2 linked regions of the Homo sapiens genome follow. The protein of the gene in region 1 purifies or fractionates together with the protein of each later gene. This does not show direct contact. Each region holds a gene or a part of one and is shown on either strand. Other genes may lie near its edges. The genes, in order: TRNAU1AP and PRPF39.

What was found.
Region 2: the proteins of TRNAU1AP (region 1) and PRPF39 purify together in Homo sapiens (affinity purification with mass spectrometry; 3 studies listed by BioGRID and IntAct, with this or other methods). This does not show direct contact.

What each region holds. Positions count from the first base shown.
Region 1 is NC_000001.11:28,547,008-28,558,577, forward strand, and holds the start of TRNAU1AP (tRNA selenocysteine 1-associated protein 1), read left to right. Parts: upstream 1-6,077; 5' UTR 6,078-6,103; coding exon 6,104-6,130; intron 6,131-6,632; coding exon 6,633-6,730; intron 6,731-11,570. UniProt on the Homo sapiens protein: Involved in the early steps of selenocysteine biosynthesis and tRNA(Sec) charging to the later steps resulting in the cotranslational incorporation of selenocysteine into selenoproteins. Stabilizes the SECISBP2, EEFSEC and tRNA(Sec) complex.
Region 2 is NC_000014.9:45,084,433-45,095,900, forward strand, and holds part of PRPF39 (pre-mRNA-processing factor 39), read left to right. Parts: intron 1-3,810; exon of another isoform or gene 3,811-3,876; intron 3,877-10,788; 5' UTR 10,789-10,807; coding exon 10,808-11,131; intron 11,132-11,468. UniProt on the Homo sapiens protein: Involved in pre-mRNA splicing.

The sequences.
Region 1 (11,570 bases):
AGGCCAGCCTGACCAACATGGTGAAACCCCATCTCTACTAAAAATACAAAAATTAGCTGGGTGTGGTGACGGGTGCCTGTAGTTCCAGCTACTCCAGAGGCTGAGACAGGAGAATCGCTTGAACCTGGGAGGCAGAGGTTGCAGTGAGCGGAGACCCTGCCATTGCACTCCAACCTGGGCGACACGGCGAGACTCTGTCTCAAAAACAAAAAAGAGGCCGAGCACGATGGCTCATGCCTGTAATTCCAGCACTTTGGGAGGCCGAAGTGGGCAGATCACCTGAGGTTGGGAGTTTCAGACCAGCCTGACCAACTTGGAGAAACCCCATCTCTACTAAAAATACAAAATTAGCTGGGCATGGTGGCGCATGCCTGTAATCCTAGCTACTCAGGAGGCTGAGGCAGGAGAATCGCTTGAACCCGGGAGGAGGAGATTGCAGTGAGCCAAGATCACGCCATTGCACTTCAGCCTGGGCAACAAGAGCTAAATTCCATCTCAAAAAAAAAAAAAAAAAAAAAGCCAGGCGCAGTGGTTCACGCCTGTAATCTCAGTACTTTGGGAGGCTGAGGTGGGCAGATCACGAGGTCAAGAGATCGAGACCATCCTGGCTAACATGGTGAAACCCCGTCTCTACTAAAAAAATACAAAAAATTAGCCGGGCGTGGTGGCGGGTGCCTGTAGTCCCAGCTACTTGGGAGGCTGAGGCAGGAGAATGGCGTGAACCTGGGAGACAGAGCTTGCAGTAAGCCGAGATCGCGCCACTGCACACTCCAGCCTGGGTGACAGAGCAAGACTCTATCTCGAAAAAAAAAAAAAAAGAAAAGAAAACATAGGAGATGGAGAGATAAGTGTCTATGTATATGGGGAGGGGGCAGCCACTAAATACCTGAAACTGCAAGTAAAAAAGTAGTGTAGTAGAAAGTATATATTTTAAAATACACAGGTAGGTTCTAGGAAAAAGACTTGGAAATAGTCGACTCAAGGGAGTGGGAATTCGGGGGCAGAGGGTAAGAGACCACTGTCTCTTTCCATTTTTTTAAGACAGAGTGTCTCTCTGTCCCCCAGGCTGGAGTGCAGTGGCATGATCTTGGTTCACTGCAGCCTCCGCCTCCTGGGCTCAAGCAATTCTCATGTCTCAGCCTCCTGAGTAGCTGGGATTACAGGCACGTGCCACCATGCCCAGCTAATTTTTGTATTTTTAGTAGAGATGGGGTTTCACCATGTTGGCCAGGCTGGTCTCAAACTCCTGACCTCAGGTGATCTGCCTGCCTCCACCTCCCAAAGTGCTGGGATTACAGGTGTGAGCCCCTGCACCTGGCCAAAAATAAATTTTTTTAATAAAGAGCACAGCACAGTGACTGGCAAATAATACTAAATTAATAGCTGTCAGTTATAATTTTAAGGCTTCCAACTGCCATGTTGGAGGATTTACTGAATGCTAGGCATTGGGCCAAGTACTTTCCCAACTTATTTTTTTCCTCACAACCACCCTGTGGGGTAAGTAAGCACTATCCACATTAGGCCCAGAAGTTAAATAAATAATTAGCAAGAGGTGGGGCCGGGATTATGCTCCATTTGTTTGAATCTACAGCCAAAATGCCTAACCACTACACTACTATTGCAGTGATGGTAGGATACGGCCAGAAATATGGCAACTCGTGGTTGAACCTCAGGTTTTCAGACTGATGAGTCTCTGGCTTGAGAGCACAACATCCTAAGTTGAGGATGTATAGACTGGTAGGAAAGGACTTTGGGTGCCCATTAGTCCAGAGGGAGCCCCAGAAAGTGGCCTTAAAACACTTGGAGTGGGTTTCACTGTCAGAGATGCCAATTACTACATACAGAAGAAGCTTTCCATACTGACGACTGGGCACCAAAGTAAGTCAGAGGCCTGGGATACTCCCAGAGTAGGAGCATCTCAAAATTAAACTGTCTGGATTGTCTAGCCATCTAAATTGTGTTTATGACGGCACACTGTGGGCAGGTCACTGTTCTGGGACTAGTCAGAACTCCAGGTGATTTGGAGTAGGGTAGTGGGACTCAAGAAAATAGAGGCCGGGAGCTGTGGCTCACACCTGTAATCCTAGCACTTTGGGAGGCCCAAACAGGTGGTTCACCTGAGGTCAAGAGTTCAAGACCAGCCTGGCCAACATGGTGAAACCCCATCTCTACTAAAAATACAAAAATTAGCTGGGCGTGGTGGCGCCAGCCTGTAATCCTAGCTACTTGGGAGGCTGAGGCAGGAGGATCGCTTGAACCCAGGAGGCAAAGGTTGCAGTGACCAGGATAGCACCACTGCACACCAGCCTGGGCAACAGGAGCAAAACTTCATCTCAAAAATAAATAAATAAATAAATAAAAATAGAGTGACAGAACTTGGGGACTGATTGGTTGCCAGATGACAAGGTTACTCCAATTTACACTCCTTTTAATTCTTCCCACCTCCCACCCCAGGGCCCTATATGGGAATGAAGGAAGAATCCCATTCCGGCTCCAACAAGACTCATGTTTTTCAGACTGGTAAACCTGGAGTGAGGGAATGGCTTGCACAGAGCAGTGGCTTGCCCTGGGTCACAGTGAGACAGTAAGAACAGGGCTTGGCTTCAGCTCACCAAGACTAGAGCAGCAGTTCCCAACCTTTTTTGGCACCAGGGACTGGTTTTGTGGAAGACAATTTCCACGGACAGGGGATGGTTTGGGGATTACTCAAGCGCATTACATTTATTGTGCACTTTATTATTATTAATGTAACGTTGTAATATATAATGAAATGATTATATAACTCACCATAATGTAGAATCAGTGGGAGCCCTGAGCTTGTTTTCCTGCAACTAGACAGTCCCCTCTGGGGTTGTTGGGAGACAGTGACAGATCATCAGGTATTAGATTCTCATAAGGATGCCAGGCATGGTGGCTGACGCCTGTAATCTCAACACTTGGAAAGGCTGAGGCAGATGGATCACCTGAGGACAGGAGTTTGAGACCAGCCTGGCCAACATGGCAAAACCCCGTCTCTATTAAAAATACAAAAAAATTGGTGGGCGTGGTGGCTCACGCCTGTAATGCCAGCACTTTGGGAGGCTGAGGTGGGTGGATCACGAGGTCAGGAGATTGAGATCATCCTGGCTAATACGGTGAAACCCCGTCTCTACTAAAAATACAAAAAAACTAGCCAGGCATGGTAGTGGGCGCCTGTAGTCCCAGCTACTTGGGAGGCTGAGGCAGGAGACTGGCATGAACCTGGGAGGCGGAGCTTGCAGTGAGCTGAGATCACACCACTGCACTCCAGCCAGGGCGAGAGCGAGACTCTGTCTCAAAAGAAAAAACAAAAACCCACACCACCATACCCACTAACTCTGAGGCTTTAGTCATATAAAGAAAAATAGCCATTATATATTGTTCTTTTGTGCTCTTATAATGTGTAACCATGCCCTTTAATTAAAGAATTCCAGGATCTACAAAAAAAAAAGAAAGCAGAAAAAAGAAGCCAGGCGTGGTGGCTCACGCCTGTAATCCCAGCACTTTGGGAGGCCACAGTGGGGGGATCATGAGGTCAGGAGTTCTAGACCAGCCTGGCCAACATAGTGAAACCCTGCCTCTTCTAAAAATAAAAAAAAAAAAAAAAAAAAAAAAAAACTAGCCAGGCATGGTGGCAGGTGGCTGTAATCCGTCTCAAACAAAAAAAAAAAAAAAAAAAAAAAAAGAAAGAAAAGAAAAAAGAGGCTGGGCGCTGTGGCTCACACCTATAATCCCAGCACTTTGGGAGGCCAAGGCAGGAGGATCGCTTGAGCCTAGGAGTCCAAAATGAGCTTGGCCAACATAGTGAGCTCTCCTCTCTGCAAAAAAAAAAAAATTAGCCAGCTGTGGGGGTGCACACCTGTAGTGCCAGCTACTCTGGAGGCTGAGGCAGGAGGATCACTTGAGTCCGGGAGTTTGAGGCTGCAATAAGCCAAGATTGTGCCAATGCGCTCCAGCCTGGGCGACAGAGAGAGACCCTCTCTCAGAATGACTGACCAACTGAATAAATAAATAAATAAATAAAATAAAAATAATTCTAGGATCTGGCCTTAGGAGATCCAAATTATCCAACCAAGGTTGTGGAATGTCTCATCTCAGGAAGAAATGCTGAAAACTTCATTTACAGCCTTGTTGCTGACAGCCAAACTACCAGGTAGCCCAGTACTAAAGATAATCATTGGCTGGGCGCGATGGGTGGCTCACGCCTGTAATCCCAGCACTTTGGGAGGCCGAGGTGGGTGGATCACCTCAGGTCAGGAGTTCGAGACCAGCCTGACCAACATGGTGAAACCCCGTCTCTACTGAAAATACAAAAATTAGCTGTGCCTGGTGGTGGGCGCCTGTAATCCCAGCTACTCAGGAGGTGAAGCAGGAGAATAGCTAGAACCCAGGAGGCTAGATTCTAGCTATTCTGAGCCGAGATTGTGCCATTGCACTCCAGCCTGGGCGACAAAGGAAGACTCCGTCTCAAAAAAAAAAAAAAAGATAATCATTACAACAGGATATGCTGACCTTCATACCCCACCCTCATGAGCTTTGTCCTGCCCAGCCTGTAAACCCTACACTTGATATCACTTTCCGTGCTTTGCCCAATAAAACATCTCAACCAGCTCTTTTCGGAGAGTCAGGGAATTCTCGCTCTCTTGTGCTGCCTCCCTTATACCCAGGCATAAGCTCCAATGAAGACTTGTCTGGGAAAACTTTTTTGGCCTCATGTTAATTTCTGTTGGATTGAGAGCCTAAGAACCCCTGGTAACAATAGGGAGGTAGTGGAACCGGGTTGTCCGGAGGGATATTTTCACTTTTTTGGATGCACTTGTATCTGCAGTTTTTTACAACGAGCATATATTAATGTTGTAATTATGTGTGTGTTTGTGTGTGTGTGTACGTGTGTATGTTTTTTGTTTTTTGTTTTTTTTTTAATTTGAGACAGAGTCTCACTCTGTCGCCCAGGCTGGAGTGCAGTGGCGCGATCTCGGCTCACTGCAGCCTCTGCCTCCCGGGTTCAAGTGATTATCCTGTCTCAGCCACCTGAGTAGCTGGGACTACAAGTGCACACCATCATACCCGGCTAATTTCTGTATTTTTAGTAGAGACGGGGTTTCACCATGTTGGCCAGGATGGTCTCGATCTCCTGACCTCGTGATCTGCCCACCTCGGCCTCCCAAAGTGTTGGGATTACAGGCGTGAGCCACCGCGCCCGGCCTTGTTTGTTTTCTAAATATGTAAAGTCAGAAATTAACCCAAGTAACGAGCATACATATATATGTGTGTGTGTGTGTGTATATATGTATATATATGTGTATGTGTGTATATATGTGTATATGTGTATTATGTGTGTATATGTGTATATATGTGTATATATATGTGTATGTGTGTGTGTGTGTGTATGTATATATATGGAGTCTTGCTCTGTCACCAGGCTGCGGTGCAATGGCGCTATCTCGGCTCACTGCAACTTCTGCCCCCTGGGTTTAAGCGATTCTCCTGCCTCAGTCTCCCGAGTAGCTGCGACTACCAGCGCTCGCCACCACGCCCGCTAATTTTCGTACTTTTAGTAGAGAGGGGGTTTCCCCCTGTTGGCGAGGATGGTCTCGATTTCTTCACCTCGTGATCCGCCCGCCTCGGCCTCCTCAAGTGCTGGGATTACAGGCGTGAGCCACCGTGCCCAGCCCTAACGAGCATATATTAATGTTGTAATTATATGTGTCTGTGTGTGTGTGGTTTTGTTTTCTATATAAAGTCAGACGAGTGTGTGTGTGTAGTTTTGTTTGTTTTCTAAATATATAAAGTCAGAAATAAACCCAAGTAACCCAGCCGCCTGGGCCAGGTGGTATCTGGCCCGCCCCATTCCAGCCTGAACTCCGCCCACCGCGATCCGGAAGCCTAGCGCCCAGTGGGTTGCAGGAAAAACCCGGAGCTGAACACACTGCCCGACCCGGGCCGCTGCGCTCGGGAGCCTGCGCAGAAGCCGTCGGAGGCGCATGCTCTGTAGCGGTCTCCGCAGCCAGGATTGGCGCCCGCGCGGGCCTTCGAGCCCCGCCCGCAGAGCCCCGCCCGCAAAGCCCCACCCCGGTGCGCGGGTATGGCGGCCAGCCTGTGGATGGGCGACGTGAGTGAGGGCAGCCGTCCGGGGTCTGAAGACAAGGAAGCATCTCGGTTTCGCGAGAGAGGAAGGATCTGAGTGGGAGGGGACTTGGGATCCCAGAAAGGGGAGACGTGTGACGGGGGTTCTTTTTGGTGACACAGAAGCGGGTTCCAGCATCTAAGTGAAGAGGCTGAGTCCGTGAGGCTAGGGGTCCTGGGGCCCCACCTGGGTTCGTGGGAGGGAAAGGTGGTGCTTTGGGGACATAGAATGGGAGCAATCCAAGGACTGAGGCGCGCTGTTCTGGGACCGGAGGAGTGGGGTTTCTAGGTCCAAGGGGAGGCTCCCTAAAGCGGGGCAAGCTTGAACCAAAAGAGCTGGGGTTTCAGGCCGCTCAGTGGAGGCGAACCTCGCCCCTCGCTCCCCCAGCGGCGCGTAGCCAGCCCTGGGCTGAACGGGAGGGGCTCTGGAACCCGGAGTGGGAAGCCCGGCCGCCGGCCTGAGCCGCTGTGCTCTTGTTTTTACGCAGCTGGAACCCTACATGGATGAGAACTTCATCTCCAGAGCCTTTGCCACCATGGGGGAGACCGTAATGAGCGTCAAAATTATCCGAAACCGCCTCACTGGGTAAGTCTCATCTCAGGTCTCTCTTAATACATCTCGTTGCAGCTGTCATGTACGAGAATGTAAACATCGTAGTCATGGCTTCTCACTACCCCTAGTAATAGTCACTGTAAAATTATAACAGCTAACATTTTGAGGTCCCAATGAGTGGAAGGATGGCATGTAGCTTAAGGGTAGGACTTGCCAGGCGTTGTGACTCACACCTGTAATCCCAGCACTTTGGGAGGCTGAGGTGGGTGGATCACCTGAGGTCAGGAGTTTGAGACCAGCCTGGCCAACATGGTGAAACCCCGTCTCTACTAAAAATACAAAAATTAGCCGGGTGTGGTGGCAGGCACCTGTAACCCCAGCTACTCCGGAGGCTGAGGCATGAGAATCACTTGAACCCGGGAGGCGAAGGTTGCAGTGAGCTGAGATCGTGCCACTGTACTTCAGCTTGGACAACAAGAGCAAAACAATGTCTCAAAAAAAAAAAAAACAAAAAAACAAAAAACGCAGGACTCAAGCGAGACTGGGTTTGAAAGCTATTTCTACTCTATGACCTTGGGTAAGTTACTTAACTGCTCTGTCTCATTCACTTTGAGTATAAAAATGGAAATAACAGCACCTACCTCCTAGAGTTATGGTGAGGATTAAATGAGTTAATTCACATTCATCATTAGGACAGTGTATGGCATATAGCATATGCTCAGTAAGTATAGTCAGATTACGATCTGCTGAGTAATAAGCAGTTTACATCCATTATCTCCTTAAAACCTCAGAAACTTCTGAGGTAGGTAAATACTATTATGAAGAGGCTTAATAACTTGAAGAGTTACAATAAATAGCCGGGCGCAGTGGCTCTCGCCTGTAATCCTAGCACTTTGGGAGGCCGAGGCAGGCCGGATCACGAGGTCAGGAGATTGAGACCATCCTGGCTAACACGGTGAAACCCCATCTCTACTAAAAATACAAAAAAAATTAGCTGGGCATGGTGGCGGGCACTTGTAGTCTCAGCTACTTGGGGGGCTGAGGCAGGAGAATGGCGTGAACCCAGGAGGCGGAGCTTGCAGTGAGCCGAGATCGCTCCACTCCACTCCAGCCTGGGCGACAGCTGAGACTCTGTCTCAAAAAAAAAAAAAAAGAGTTATAATAAATAACAAGTCAGGACTTGAATTCGAGTCTATCCTGAAAGCTCATGAGGGCCCTTAACTCTTATGCCATTCATTTAAAAAATTGTGGAGGATGGGTGCGGTGCCTCATGCCTGTAATCCCAGCACTTCGGGAGGCGAGAAGGGTGGATCACCTGAGGTCAGGAGTTGGAGACCAGCCTGACCAACATGGAGAAACCCTGTCTCTACCAAAAATTAGCCAGGCGTGGTGGTGCATGCCTGTAATCCCAGCTACCTGGGAGGCTGAGGCAGGAGAATCGCTTGAACTTGGGAGGCAGAGGTTGTAGTGAGCCGAGATCGCGCCATTGCACTCCAGCCTGGGCAATAAGAGCGAAACTCCATCTCAAAAAAAAAAAAAAAATTATCTGTGGAGATACTACTGTGTTCTACTGTTATACATTCCTGGCTGAAATAATCCAGATATAGCCCCTGCTCATGGAGTTTACTACATTCTAGTGGGGAATGAGACAATAAATAAGTAAACATAACCAAATGCGTATTTTCAGATAGAGGTTCTCTATTGCCTCCATGTTCTTCTTTCTCTTTGAGGTCTTAGTTTTCCTTAGGGAATTATCAATTTGTCAGTGTTTATCAAGCAGCTACTCTTTTCCTTTTTTTTTTTTTTTTGAGACGGAGTCTCGCTCTGTCACTACCCAGGTTGGAGTGCAGTGGCGCGATCTTGGCTCACTGAAAGCTCCGCCTCCTGGGTTCACGCCATTCTCCAAGCAGCCACTCTTTTCTCGGTACTCTACTACATGTGGCTTGCTAAAACATCAAATGGTTTAAAAATAGAGATGAGACATTTGAAAGATACTTTGTGTATTCAGAACCCCATTACCTAGGAAAAGGTTTTTCTGACTGGTAGATCGTGCCCACCTAAATATTTCTCTTCTTGCTCTTCTAAGCAGAAAACCCCAGATAATCAGCTACTGGTATGAAAATTCATTCTGTAACCTTTCTCATTTTTTTTTCTTTTTTTTTTTTTTGAGACGGAGTCTTGCTCTGTGGCCCAGGCTGGTGTGCAGTGGCACGATCTCGGCTCACTGCAAGCTCCACCTCCTGGGTTCAAGCCATTCTCCTGCCTCAGCCTCCCAAGTAGCTGGGACTACAGGCGCCCGCCACCACGCCAGGCTAATTTTTTGTATTTTTAGTAGAGATGGGGTTTCACCATGTTAGCCAGATGGTCTCAATCTCATGACCTCGTGATCCGCCTGCCTTGGCCTCCCAAAGTGCTGGGATTACAGGTGTGAGCCACCGCGCCCGGCCCCTTTCTACTTTTTAAAACACTGGCATAGGCTGGGCACGGTAGCTCACACTTGTAATCCCAGCACTTTGGGAGGCTGAGGTGGGCAGATCACTTGAGGTCAGGAATTTGAGAACAGCCTGGACAACATGGTGAAACCTTGTCTCTACTAAAAAAATACAAAAATTAGCCAGGTGTGGTGAGACACACCTGTAATTCCAACTACTTGAGAGGCTGAGGAAGGAGAATCGTTTGAACCCAGGAGGTAGAGGTTGCAGTGAGCCGAGATTGTGCCACTGTGCTCCAGCCTGGGTGACAGAGGGAAACTTTGTTGCAAAAATAAATAAGTAAAACACTGGCATAGATTCTCACATTTTAATCTTTTTTTTTTTTTTTTTTCTGAGGCATAGTCTCCCTCTGTTGCCCAGGCTGAAGTGCAATGGCACCATCTTGGCTCACTGCAACCTCCGCCTCCTGGGTTTAAGCCCTTCTCCTCTCTCAGACTCCTGAGTAGCTGGGATTACAAGCACCTGCCACCACGCCCAGCTCATTTTTTTTGTTTGTTTGTTTTTTGAGACGGAGTCTCGCTCTGTCACCCAGGCAGGAGTGCAGTGGTGCGATCTCAGCTCACTGCAACCTCTGCCTCCCAGGTTCAAGCGATTCTCCTGCCTCAGCTTCCTGAGTAGGTGGGACTACAGCCGTGTGCCACCACATCCAGCTAATTTTCTGTATTTTTAGTAGAGATGGGATTTCACTGTGTTAGCCAGGATGGTCTCAATCTTCTGACCTCTGCCTGCCTCAGCCTCCCAAAGTGCTGGGATTACAGGCGTGAGCCACTGCGCCCGGCCTAATTTTTTCTATTTTTAGTATAGATGGGATTTCACTGTGTTGGCCAGGCTAGCCTCGAACTCCTGACCTCAGGTGATCTGTCCGCCTCAGCCTCCCAAAGTGCTGGATTACAGGCATGAGCCACTGGGACCAACCTTACTGTTTATTGAAATAAGATATGGGCCAGGCACAGTGGCTCACACCTGTAATCCCAGCACTTTGGGAGGCCGAGGCAGGCGGATCACGAGGTCAGGAGATCGAGACCATCCTGGCTAACACAGTGAAACCCCGTCTCTACTAAAAATACAAGAAAATTAGCCAGGCATGGTGGCGGGCGCCTGTAGTCCCAGCTACTCGGGAGGCTGAGGCAGGAGAATGGCGTGAACCCGGGAGGTGGAGCTTGCAGCGAGCGGAGATCACACCACTGCACTCCAGCCTGGGCGACAAAGTGAGACTCTGTCTCAAAAAAAAGAAAAGAAATAAGATATGGAACTCTTGTTTCTTACATGTTTCTTTTTTTTTTTTTTTTTTTTACTTTGAGGCAGAGTTTCGCTCTTGTCACCCAGACTATATTACATATTATTTTTCCTTGGGTCTTATCTTTTCTCCTTTTCTATAATCTTGGTGTTTTGTTTTGTTTTGTTTTCTTTTGAGACAGAGTCTTGCTCTGTCACCAAGCAGGAGTGCAGTGGCGCAATCTTAGCTCACTGCAATCTGCACCTCTCGGGTTCAAGCCATTCTCCTGCCTCAGCCTCCCGAGTAGCTAGGACTACTGGCACATACCACCATGCCCAGCTAATTTTTGTATTCTTATTACAGACAGGTTTTCACCATGTTGGCCAGGATAGTCTCGATCTCTTGACCTCGTGATCCACCCACCTTGGCCTCCCAAAGTTCTGGGATTACAGGCGTGAGCCACCGCTCCCGGCCAACACCCAGCTAATTTTTTTTTTTTTGGTTTGAGGCAGAGTCTCTGTCGCCCAGGCTGGAGTGCAGTGGAATGATCTCGACTCACTGCAACCTCCACCTCCCAAATTCAAGCAGTTCTCCTGCCTCAGCCTCCTGAGTAGCTGGGATTACAGTCATGTGCCACTATGCCTGGCTAATTTTTTTTTTTTTTTTTTTTTTGTTTAGTAGAGACAGGGTTTCACCATGTTGGTCAGAACTCCTGACCTCCTGATCCACCCGCCTTGGCCTCCCAACGTGTTGGAATTACAGGCGTGAGCCACTGTGCCCAGCCCGCCCTGCTAATTTTTGTATTTTTTTTTTTTTTTTTTTGAGATGGAGTCTGGCTGTGTTGCCAGGCTGGAGTGCAGTGGCGTGATGTTGGCTCACTGCAACCTCTCCCTCCGGGTTCAAGCAATTCTTGTGCCTCAGCCTCCCGAGTAGCTGGGATTACAGGCACACACCACCCCACCCAGCTAATTTTCGTATATTTTTTTTTTGTTTGTTTTTGAGACCCAGTCTCACCGTGTCATCCAGGCTGGAGTGCATTGATGCGATCTCAGCTCACTGCAACTTCCGCCTCCCGCGTTCAGGCAATTTTCCTGCCTCAGGCTCCCGAGTAGCTGGGACTACAGGCACACACCACTACGCCCGACTAATTTTTTTTTTTTTTTTT
Region 2 (11,468 bases), on another chromosome or scaffold:
CGGTGCAAGGTATTTTTTTCTTAGACCAAACGTTTCACTTGAGGGGTGCGTTAGGTAGGGTGGAGAAGTGTGGGCCTCCTTCGCCTGGATTTAGGAAGATATTTGGGGGTAATTCTAAAGCCCTTGCTTCTCCCGGAGCTGGAACACGGCTGGGGTGGCTGGAAGTGGAAGGAGCACATTTGCAGCCGCCAGAGGATTGGGAAGATAATATACGTTCTATTACTAAGGCATGTGAGCGCCTTGTAGGGCACGTTCTGTCTTCTGACTACATAAGCAACACTTTTGCGACCCTAAGTCACAGCACCCACAGCTTTTGGCAGGATACTTTAAAACAGAAAAAACACATCATTGATCCTGGCAGGATTTTTTAAGGGATTGTGCTTAAGAATGTTTAACTTTGGTAATCAGAGACCACCACTGGTGTTTTTCTCCAAAATCACATCTTTAAGTTAATTAATACTTGAAGTTAATAAATAATACTGCTCAGTGTATTAGTAATGATGCCATAATACCATGTGAATTTATGCTGATTCAAATGTTGTTTTTTTCGTTTGATACTCATATGGCCTTCTGTTTGAGGACTTCAGATTATTTAGCAACTGATTTAATCTGTTCAGAAATAAACTTTGCTACAGCTGGAAAGCGTGAGGCTTGAGAAAGCAAGTTTTGGACAGGGACGTATGAAGCTCATGTTGAAACTTAAGTGTTTTAGGCTGTATGGGAGCTTGAATGGAGTGAAAAGAACAAGCGTCTACTGTCAGGTTTTCCTCCTCCCTCTAGATTTATAACCTCATTCTAGAGTTGCAAAAGTTGGAACTTTCCACTGTTCACTCTCTAGTAGGGATAAAGTGATGGAAAGGAGTTCTGTTAAAGAGGACTAGTACTTAGATTGTGAACTTTGAAGTAGGGGTTGAGCATAGATGGCTCATAGGTGGTATGAGACACTATTTGTGTAAAGTCTCAGAATATTTTTCCTTGCTTATAATTGAATAAGAAAGAAGATGTTTAAAAGTCAAATGATAAAAATTGTATGTGCTGTTTTCTGTGGTATGTTTTAACAAATCTACATGGAAGATAGGACTTCAAAAAAAATTAAAAATAGCCGAAGGAGGAAGAAGGTAGTGTAGTTCCAGCCAAATGGTACGTTTTCCAAAAAGCCGAAGATTGATGTAGACGTTTATGTAAATACATATACAAAATCTAGTTTCTGGAACACAGTGTTTAATATGTAGAGACTTTAAAAAGTCGGCGTGTGACTACTTAGCCCTTAAAAACAGCTGCCAAAACCAGTGGTTATGATAGTCTCTTTTCTTCTTACATCCCAAATCTCCAGATTGCCTTGTGGATGAGATTTGCTTATTGCAAAGCTACTTGTTTTGCTCTACCCAAAACTCCTTTCAGTCTTTAGTGATGACTTCAGATTTTTATATATTGCTGTGTTTATGAAAAAGAATAGTCAATGGTATAATTTTTAAGTACCTCTACAGGAATAAGAGGCATACAGAAAAAAAAAAAAAGGTATTAGGTCAAAAGATGGCATTTCACTCTCGTTGCCCAGGCTGGAGTGCAATGGCGCTATTGGCTCACCGCAACCTCCGCCTCCCGGGTTCAAGTCATTCTTCTGCCTCAGCCTCCCCAGTAGCTGGGATTACAGATGCGCGCCACCACGCCTAATTTTTTGTATTTTTAGTAGAAACGGGGTTTCACCATGTTAGCCAGGCTGGTCTAGAACTCCTGACTTCAGGTGATCTGCCTGCCTCGGCCTCCCAAAGTGCTGAGATGACAGGCATGAGCCACCGTGCCCGGCCCAAATGTCCCATTTTTAATTAAGTGTTAGTAATTGAAGTCATCCTCCAAAAGACCTTTTAAATTTTAAGATGGCATAATTGTCACTGAAATACTTAATGTACGTCATAATTATACTAAAAGTGAAAGGTATGATAAATGTATTTTTTATATATTGCCTATTCACTTTATGTTATGTTTCATTTTATACTTGTGTCCTTTGTGCCTATCATATGATTTTATAATAAAGTGTAATGTAGTGAAAAGGAATCGACTGGTTTGGTGAGTTGAAAAAGGGAGGACTTTTATTAGTCTGGGGGAACAGCTTTTGTCAAGGCTCAGAAAGGAAAAATCTAAGGGACTCTGGAAATGGCAATGAGGAGGAGTATTGTAAGATTAATACTTTTGGAAAGTTAAGTTGAGACTGGATATATCATTCAGAGATATTTGTTGTGCTGTTACACGGCAAGTATTATTTCAGGTTCAAGGGGGACAGCGGTGAACAAAACTGATAAGGCCTCATTCTCACCCAATTTAATTTTTTTTTCCTTTTACTCTTGTTGAGCTGTGATCAGGAAATTTAATATTCGAGTAATATTAGTTTGCAGTAGTGCAGCAGTGTTTCTCAGTTTTTTTTTTTTTTTTTTTTTTTACTGCAGCCCACAATAAGATGTACATGGACATCACTAACTCAATAAACAGTTCAATTGTGTGTGCTTCAACAGTGTGCCCTTAATGTGTGCATTCACTGTGGTATATCTGTTTTTCTACATTTAAAAAATGAGAAACTGGTTTGAAGCAATCTGCATTTGAAAACATTGATCCAGAGGGGAGAAAATAAATACTTAAATTATAACACTAGTAGTGTGAATGGAAAGAAGGGGATAGTTAATTTTTTAAGGTGTATTATTTCGCTCTGTCGCCCAGGTTGAAGTGCACTGACATGGTCAGCCCACTGCAACCTCCACCTCCTGGGGCTTGGGTGATCCTCCTGCCTCAGCTTCCCAAGTTGCTGGGACTACAGGTGCGTGCCACCACACCCAGCTAATTTTTAAATTTTTTTGTAGAGACAGCATTTCCCTATGTTGCCCAGACTGGTCTCGAACTCCTGGACTCAAGCAGTCCTCTCACCTCGACTTCCAAAGTGCTGGGATTACAGGTTTGAGCCACTGCATGGGTGGCCCAGAGTGTATTATTTTTTTTGATGGACAGATCTTAATTGTATACATCGTGGGATAGGGGATCATTCATTTTTATACCGAGGTATGTTTGAATATTTTGTGAATGAGGCTTAGAGAGGTTAAGTAATTGGCTCAGAGTTCCCTAATGAGTAGCCAGAAGACTGTTTTTTTTTTGTTTTGTTTTGTTTTTTTTGAGATGGAGCCTTGCTCTGTCACCCAGGCTGGAGTGCAGTGGCGCTATCTCGGCTCACTGCAACCTCCGCCTCCTGGGTTCACACCATTCTCCTACCTCAGCCTCCTGAGAAGCTGGGACTACAGGCGCCCGTCACCATGCCCGGCTAATTTTTTTTTTTTTTTTTTTTGTATTTTTAGTAGAGACGGGATTTCACCGTGTTAGACAGGATGGTCTCTATCTCCTGACCTCATGATCCGCCCGCCTCAGCCTCCCAAAGTGCTGGGATTACAGGCGTGAGCCACTGCGCCCGGCCTCATAAGTGTTCTTCTGGCCTCTAAAACCCAAGTACTTATCACTTCCCATTTGGTTATGAAAGCAATATACTGGGTTTTAGTATGGGTTACTGAAGACTAATGTTACTTGTTTATTGTTCAATGAATTGAGTGTATACTAGGCCTCCAGGTGTACTGTATCCCTGTGTATTGGTAGATATGGTCCTTACTCTCAAGAATTGTGTAATCTGGTAGAGAAGATACACATTGAACAAGTATCACAAATGTGTTATGTGCTATGGAGAAAAAGAATGCTGTTGGGGCATGATTGAGGGCAACCTAATTTATTTGGGGGGTATGATAACACTTTTCAGGAAATGATGTTAAACTTTGCCCACTGTGATGATGGCATTTCTTAGGACAATTTTGGATTAATTATGAAAACAACTACTCTCTGAGCAATTGTTGAAAAAAAAATTAAAAAGCAAACTTTGCCCAGAAGATTAGGCTTTAGTTAGTTTGAAGGCACTGAGTCAGAGTGTGGTGTCAGGTAAAGGGATGAGGAAGCATTCAGGTAGAAGAAACTGCATGTACTAAGGTTCCTAAGCTGAAAGGAACAGAATTGGAAAAAACAGAAAGCAAAACTCAACAGAAATAGAATGTCTGGGCTGTACAAGTTAGTAGAGAAGAGGCAAGAGTTTTGGTGTTAGGATGAGGTTGAATCTTAGCTCTGTTTCTTACTATTCATGTACATTTAGACAAGTTATTTAACGTTAATGAATTTTGGTTTTGTCATCTTTAAAAGGGAAAGTAGCATTTAACAAAATATTTGCTCAATAAATAGCATATCTTATTATCATTAATAGCTAGTAATTGAAGTTATAGCAGTGCAGATGACATGCTTTCATTCATTCATTCTTCAGAAATAATGAGTGTCTTTGTGTGCCAGGCAACTCGATACACAGTAGTTGAATTACACATGTATATGTATTATTACATTAAAGTGTCATAAAACCATATACTTTTACTATGCAAAGCACTGTGCTAAAATTTTTTTCTATTCTATTTTCCATTTGAAGAAAGGTTCAAGAAACTGGTGTGAAGCAATCTACAGTTTGAAAATTACTGATACAGTGAAGAGATGATTACTTAGCCCCTTATTACAGATATGATATGCAAATATTTTCTCCCATTCTGTAGGTTGCCTTTTCACTCCACTGATTGTGTCCTTTTATGCACAAAAGCTTTTAAATTTGATGTAGTCCTATTTGTCTGTTTTTGCTTTTGTTTGCCTGTGCTTTTGGCATTATCCAAGAGTTCACTGCCAAGTCCAGTATCATTAAGCTTTCCCCTACGTTTTCTTCTAGGAATTTTATAGTTTTAGGTTTTACATTTAGGTCTTTACTTCATTTTAAGTTAATTTTTACATGTAGTATAAGACCAGGGTCCAACTTCATTCTTTTGCACGTGGATATCCAGTTTTCCAAGCACCATTTGAAGAGACGATCCCTTCCTCAATGAGCAGTCTTAGCACTTTGTTGAGGGCCATTTGAGAAGGGAGTTTATTTCTGTGTTCTTTATTTCATTGGCCTATTTGACTGTTTTTATGTCAGTATCACACTTGATTTCTTTCTTTTTTTTGAGGCAGGGTCTGGCTCTGTCACCCAGGCTGGAGTGCAGTGGCACGATCACGACTCACTGCAGCCTTGACTCCCACTTCAGCCTCCGGCTAATTTTTGTATTTTTTTGTAGAGAATGGTTTTTGCTATGTTGCCTGGGCTGGTCTGGAACTCATGGGTGATCGGCCTACTTGGCCTCCCAAAGTGCTGAGATTACAGACAGGAGCCACTATGCCTGGCCCGTTTTATTTCTTTCTTTTGATAGCTATTCTGTACCCTTTCCCATTTTATGTTGCTAGTTGAAAATTATTGGTTGTTGTTAAGAATAAACTGATAATAATTGACATATAAATAATATGTTGGAGTAACTCATTAAAAAATAACTTTAGTGTATTCTTTTGACTCTGTGATTTGTGAAGTAATCATCAAAATGATCTCTATAAGCATAAGGTTGATGTTCTTAAATCTTTTTACAACACTGTGATTGCAGGGTGTGGAGTAATTGACAGGCTCTGAAGATGCAGGGGTGTGGTAAATTTGCTGATTCCAGAAGAAACCCTTATGTCTCACCTAAGTGTGAAATTAGAATAGGGTAGCTAGTTAATGACTCAGAATGTATCAGCCTACAGTCTTTTTTGTATTTTGTTTTTAGACTGAGCTCTGAAATACAAAACCACAAACTAGTGACTAATTTGCATTTGGAAAATTAATCTTCAAACGTATCTTTTTCTTTAAAGGAAGAGGGAAAAAGAACAAAATAAATTTACAAGTTACTTTGCCTTTTCCTAGGGCCTGAAGTGATTAAACTTGGAAAAGTTGATGACATTAATCATACATTGAACTAGAAGGGAACTTATTTTTTCTGGTAGTCTACTACTTTGGACTCTCTTTTATTATGCATTGGCTAGATTTGCTTTTTCTGTAATTTTTTCTCAAATTCTTTTGTCCATAATATGGCTCCATGCTACTTTGCTTTTACCCTTCTACTTCTCAATACCAACCTCTTCATTCTGGTCATTCTGTGTCTCTCTTATCTTTTCAGTCATCATTTCTACCTTCTTGTCTGCTGTCAAGGAGAGTTGTTTAATGGGTTGTTCCACATTCTAGAATAGTTTACCATTCTTTTTCTATTATTCCATAATTTTTCAAAGTTAATTATATTTCATGTTTTCATCTATAGATTGCTATTGTTTTCAAATGATTTTTTCAATAATCTTTCACTTTGTTTCATTTGAGAGCTTATCTCCAAATGTGTGTGTGTATGTGTTTGTGTGTGTGTGTATGTGTTGTGTGTTAGCTCTTTCTCTACCTGGTTAATAGACATTAGTGAGTAAGGACCTTATCTTACACTTATATGTCACTACGAGGAATGTAATACAGTGCTGGACATCCATCAGGCATTGAAAATTTTTTGTCCCCTTCCCCCATCCCCACATGTCCCATTTTTTCCTTTCAAATTTTTGTGTATTCCCTAGATTTACCTGGTTATAGCTAATTCTTTCAATGGCATTCAGACTCAGAAGGTCTTTTAACATTTAAAATTTATTCTTTCTTAGGAAAAAAATAGTTTCATACTATTTGTTCTTTCTTTTTCTTTTTCCTTGTTTTTAATAGAATCTTGCTCTGTCTCCCAGGCTTAGGAAAAAAATGGTTTCATACTATTTGTTCTTTCTTTTTCTTTTTTCCTTGTTTTTAATAGAATCTTGCTCTGTCTCCCAGGCTGGAGTGCAGTAGTGTGATCGTAGTTCACTGCAGCCTTGAACTACTGGATGATCAAGTGATTCTCCCACCCCAGCCTCCTCAGTAGCTAGGACTATAGGCACACACCACTGTGCCCAGCTAATTTTTAGATTTTTTTGTAGTGATGGAATCTCACTTTGTTCCCCAGGCTGGTCTGGAACATCTGGCTTCAAGCGATCCACCCACCTTGGCTTCCCGAAGTGTTGGGATATAGGTGTGAGCCACCTTTCCTGGCCATGCTACATTTTGAAATGATGGAAATGTTTTAGAATCTGGGTTTTGTATCCGTGTGACAATTTTAAAGGGTCACACATAGACACATGACCCCGAATGCAAAACTAATATGACAAACTTATAATAATATTTTACAATTTTGCAGAGATCTGGCTTTCTTAGTTTACGAAGAGTGTATACAAACCAATAAGAAAAAAATTAGTAATGAACAGAAAATATGGGCAAAAGATGTGAAAAGGCATTTATGAAAAAAAGAAATAAAAATTTTACTTACTCATAGTTAAGGAAATGAAAATCAAAATGAGGTGCTACTTTGTTAAAAAAAAATTAGATGAGCAAATGATAGCTATTGTTGCCGGGGATATAAAGCAATGGACAGTCTCATGCACTGTTGATGACTTAATTGGTTAGGAATTCATTTTGTCTCAAAGTAATAGAAAACTTGTATATTGATAGTAGTTTAAACAAATAGGAATTTATTTCCTTACACAATAGGAAGGTGGCATTTTGTTAGAGCTTGATGATGTCAAGGTTGGTATTTCTTAATTTTCTTGGCCAATCCCTTATAGACTACTTCATGGACATGAATCGTTTCAGATATGGTCAAATCCAAGGTAAGAATAAATTGGTAGAAGGAAGGACCACACTAGTTGTGATTGTCCCTTTTTATCAAAAAAGCAGAAGCTTTCTCAGAGCTCTGCAGCTGATGTTCTTTTCAGTTTTGTGGTCACTTACATGAGATTAACTATATTGCTGCTTTGAATGAAATCAGTATTTTATTAGTAAGGAAATTACTAATAGTGAGAAGGGATATTGGGTAGGCAACTAACAGTGTCTGCCAGATGACTAGTGCAACTTTTCCAGAGAGAAATTGTCAGCATCGGCTGTGCACGGTGGCTCACGCCTATAATCCCAGCGCTTTGGGAGGCCGAGGCAGGCGGATCATGAGGTCAGGAGATCAAGACCATTCTGGCCAACATGGTGAAACCTCGTCTCTCCTAAAAATACAAAAATTAGCTGGGCATGGTGGTGCGTGCCTGTAGTCCCAGCTACTCAGGAGGCTGAGGCAGGAGAATCGCTTGAACCCGGAAGGCGAGGGCTGCAGTGAGCCGAGATTGCGCCACTGCACTCCCGCCTGGGTGACAGATCGAGACTCTGTCTCAAAAAAAAAAAAAAAAAAAAAAAAGTCGTCAGCATCTTTCCAAATTTAGTATTATTCTTCAATCCAAAAGTTATACTCTCCAGAGTTTACCCACAAACAAGTTTCTGTTTTTCTGAATTATTTAGAGAACTTGGTAGAAGTATAACTTTCTTGGCCCTTCCCTAGACCTCAGAATCATTGTAGTCGGTAAGGAATCTATATTAGTTTTAAACAGCTTACTAGTTGACTTGTTTGGAGCCAGATTTGCAAATTTCTGCATAGACGGTAGTGAAACTCAGATTTTTATAGTATGGTAGTCATAAAATTGTTAAAAAAAAAATGTATCCAGTCAACTTATAGCTGGCTTTTTAAAAAAATAACAAAAAACTTCTCCCCCCATTCAGTTAAGTAATTGCAGATAGGCAAAAAGAATAAAGCACACATCTCTCTTTTGTATGGAGAACAATTGTTAACACCAGCTGCCAGTTTTGTATTTTATTTTATTTGGTGTAAATCCTTACAAATCTGTGAGTGCATGTGTGTATGCATATATATGTATTTAAAAAATCTATAATGGATATTTTTCTGTATCAATACAGATGTACATATTTCCTTTTTAATTCTTATTATTCCATTATATATGATTTATTTTTTTTTTTTTGAGACGGAATCTCACTGTATTGCCCAGGCTGGAGTGCAGTGGCACGATCTTGGCTCACTGCAACCTTCACCTCCCGGGTTCAAGTGATACTCCTGCCTCAGCCTCCCGAGTAGCTGGAACTACAGACGTGTGCCACCACACCCTGCTAATTTTTTGTATTTTTAGTAGAGATGGGGTTTCACCATGTTGGACAGGCTGGTCTTGAACTCCTGACCTCAGGTGGTCTACCCTCCTCGGCCTCCCAAAGTGCTGGGATTACGGGCATGAGCCACCGTGCCTGGCCGAGTATACTATTTATTAAAGCAGTCTTTTTCTTTTCTTTTTTTTTTTTTGAGACGGAGTTTCACTCTTGTTGCCCAGGCTGGAGTGCAATGGCATGATCTCGGCTCACTGTACCCTCCTCCTCCCAGGTTCAAGAGAGTCTCCTGCCTCAGCCTCCTGAGTAGCTGGGATTACAGGCATGTGCCACCACGCCCGGCTAATTTGGTATTTTTAGTAGAGACAGGGTTTCTCCTTGTTGGTGAGGCTGGTCTCGAACTCCCAACCTCAGGTGATCCGCCTGCCTCAGCCTCCCAAAGTGCTGGGATTACAGGCATGAGCCACCACGCCCGGCCAAAGCAGTCTTTTTCTTAATACACCCTCCAGTTTTGCTGTACAACAGTGCTGGTAATGAATGCCCTTAAACAAATACATGTTTTTTCTGATTATTTCCATAGTATAAAATATGTACAGTTGCTATTTGGTACACTCATTATTTTGATTTATGTCTTTATTAGTAAAGATATAGGTCTTTTTTATGTTTATTGGTCATTTGCATTTCTTCCTTTGCATTATTGTCTTTAAAGTTTTAGTCATCTTTTTAATTAACTACTATTAATATATTAAGTAGTAGTATATTCTAAGTATATTTTAAGAGTAAATCAGTTTTATGGTCTGCTTAATTTTGAGAATAATTCCTCATTTTAAAAAAAATGAGACATGCCCTATAATTTAATGATTTGGTTTCCATTTAAGCTGTTAGTGGAAGAGATGAAGGTAATTATGAAAATATAATGTGGTATTACCTTAAAGGGGTAATTGCTTATTACCTTATAGCCTTAAAAATTAGATGACATAATTTTAAGTATATTATGTAGTTATTATCCAGACTGTAAGCCTTTCTCAAATATGTTTTTTAGAGGTAGGGTCGTGCTCTGTTGCCCAGGCTGGAGTATCGTAGCAGGGTCAATGCTTACAGCAGCCTTGAACTTCTGGGCTCAGGTGATCCTCCTGCCACAGCATCTCCTGAGTAGCTGGGACTGCAGCTGTGTGCCACCATGCCTGGCCCCTTAAATGTGTTTTAAGTAACATTTATTCACTTTAAAAATTACTGTTTAATTTTTTAAAGCCATAATTTATATCTTATATAATAAAGTTGAAACCTAGCTGTCAGGATTTATAAATCGTAAGTATATAGATATATTTAAGCAATATGATTTTATCTTTTCTAAAACTTTATCCTGAGCCAAGTGATGAGCTTCCTTTTGAAATGTTTATACCCATGACCAGAATTTTTGTCAGTTTTACTTTTAGCCTCCAGAACAGTTGTTAAAGATATGCCGTTTTCCAGTGATTGATAGCAAGGTAACATTCAGGCACCGAATCAGATTCTTACCTAAATAAGAAACATTGAATTTTAAATAGTATTTCTTCATTGGGTAGCAGGCAGTGTACTTATTTGTTGTTTGAATGAGGTAACAAATCCACAGTTATTTGGTTTTCATTCAAATACCAACAACAAAATGGCAGTTTTGTGAAGAATTTATAATTTTATTTACAATATAAAAACTAATGAACCTTCTGATTCTGACTTGTAGGGGATTAAGACTCACATTAATATTTCTTTAATAGCTAAATTAGGGCTTTTTAAAAGGTGTTGTTGAGGCCAAATAATTTTATTGGCATTTGGAAGATATTTCTCTTTTTTTCGTGTTTCCACAGATCGTTAACTGAAGACAATATGCAAAATTCTCACATGGATGAATACAGAAATTCTAGTAATGGCAGCACAGGCAACAGTTCAGAGGTAGTGGTAGAACATCCTACTGATTTCAGTACTGAGATTATGAACGTTACAGAAATGGAACAGTCACCTGATGACTCTCCCAATGTGAATGCATCTACAGAAGAAACTGAAATGGCAAGTGCTGTGGACCTTCCAGTGACGCTGACAGAAACAGAAGCAAATTTCCCTCCAGAATATGAAAAATTTTGGAAAACTGTAGAAAATAATCCTCAGGATTTTACAGGCTGGGTATATTTGCTTCAATATGTAGAACAGGAGGTTAGTAACTATTAAAATGGTATCAGAAGGGACAAATTAATCAAGTCATTAATTTATAATGAAACAGTAGACCTTATTGTTTATGATTAAAATTGACTCATAATTTTCAAATGAAGTTGAATAACATTAGGTAGCTACATTTTTAGCTTTGAAAATAGCTTACAGCTTTTGTATGTTGTAGAGAGTCAGTAGTGTCAAAGCTTAATGTTTTGTAATAATTGAGGTGTAAATGTGTGTGTAAAATTGCTGAAATAAAAAGTTGGCAAAATTAGTTCCTTCTGTTTCAATTGCGTTTAGAAGAAAAAGGGGGCTGCTGCCTGTGTAGGTTTTTTTTTTT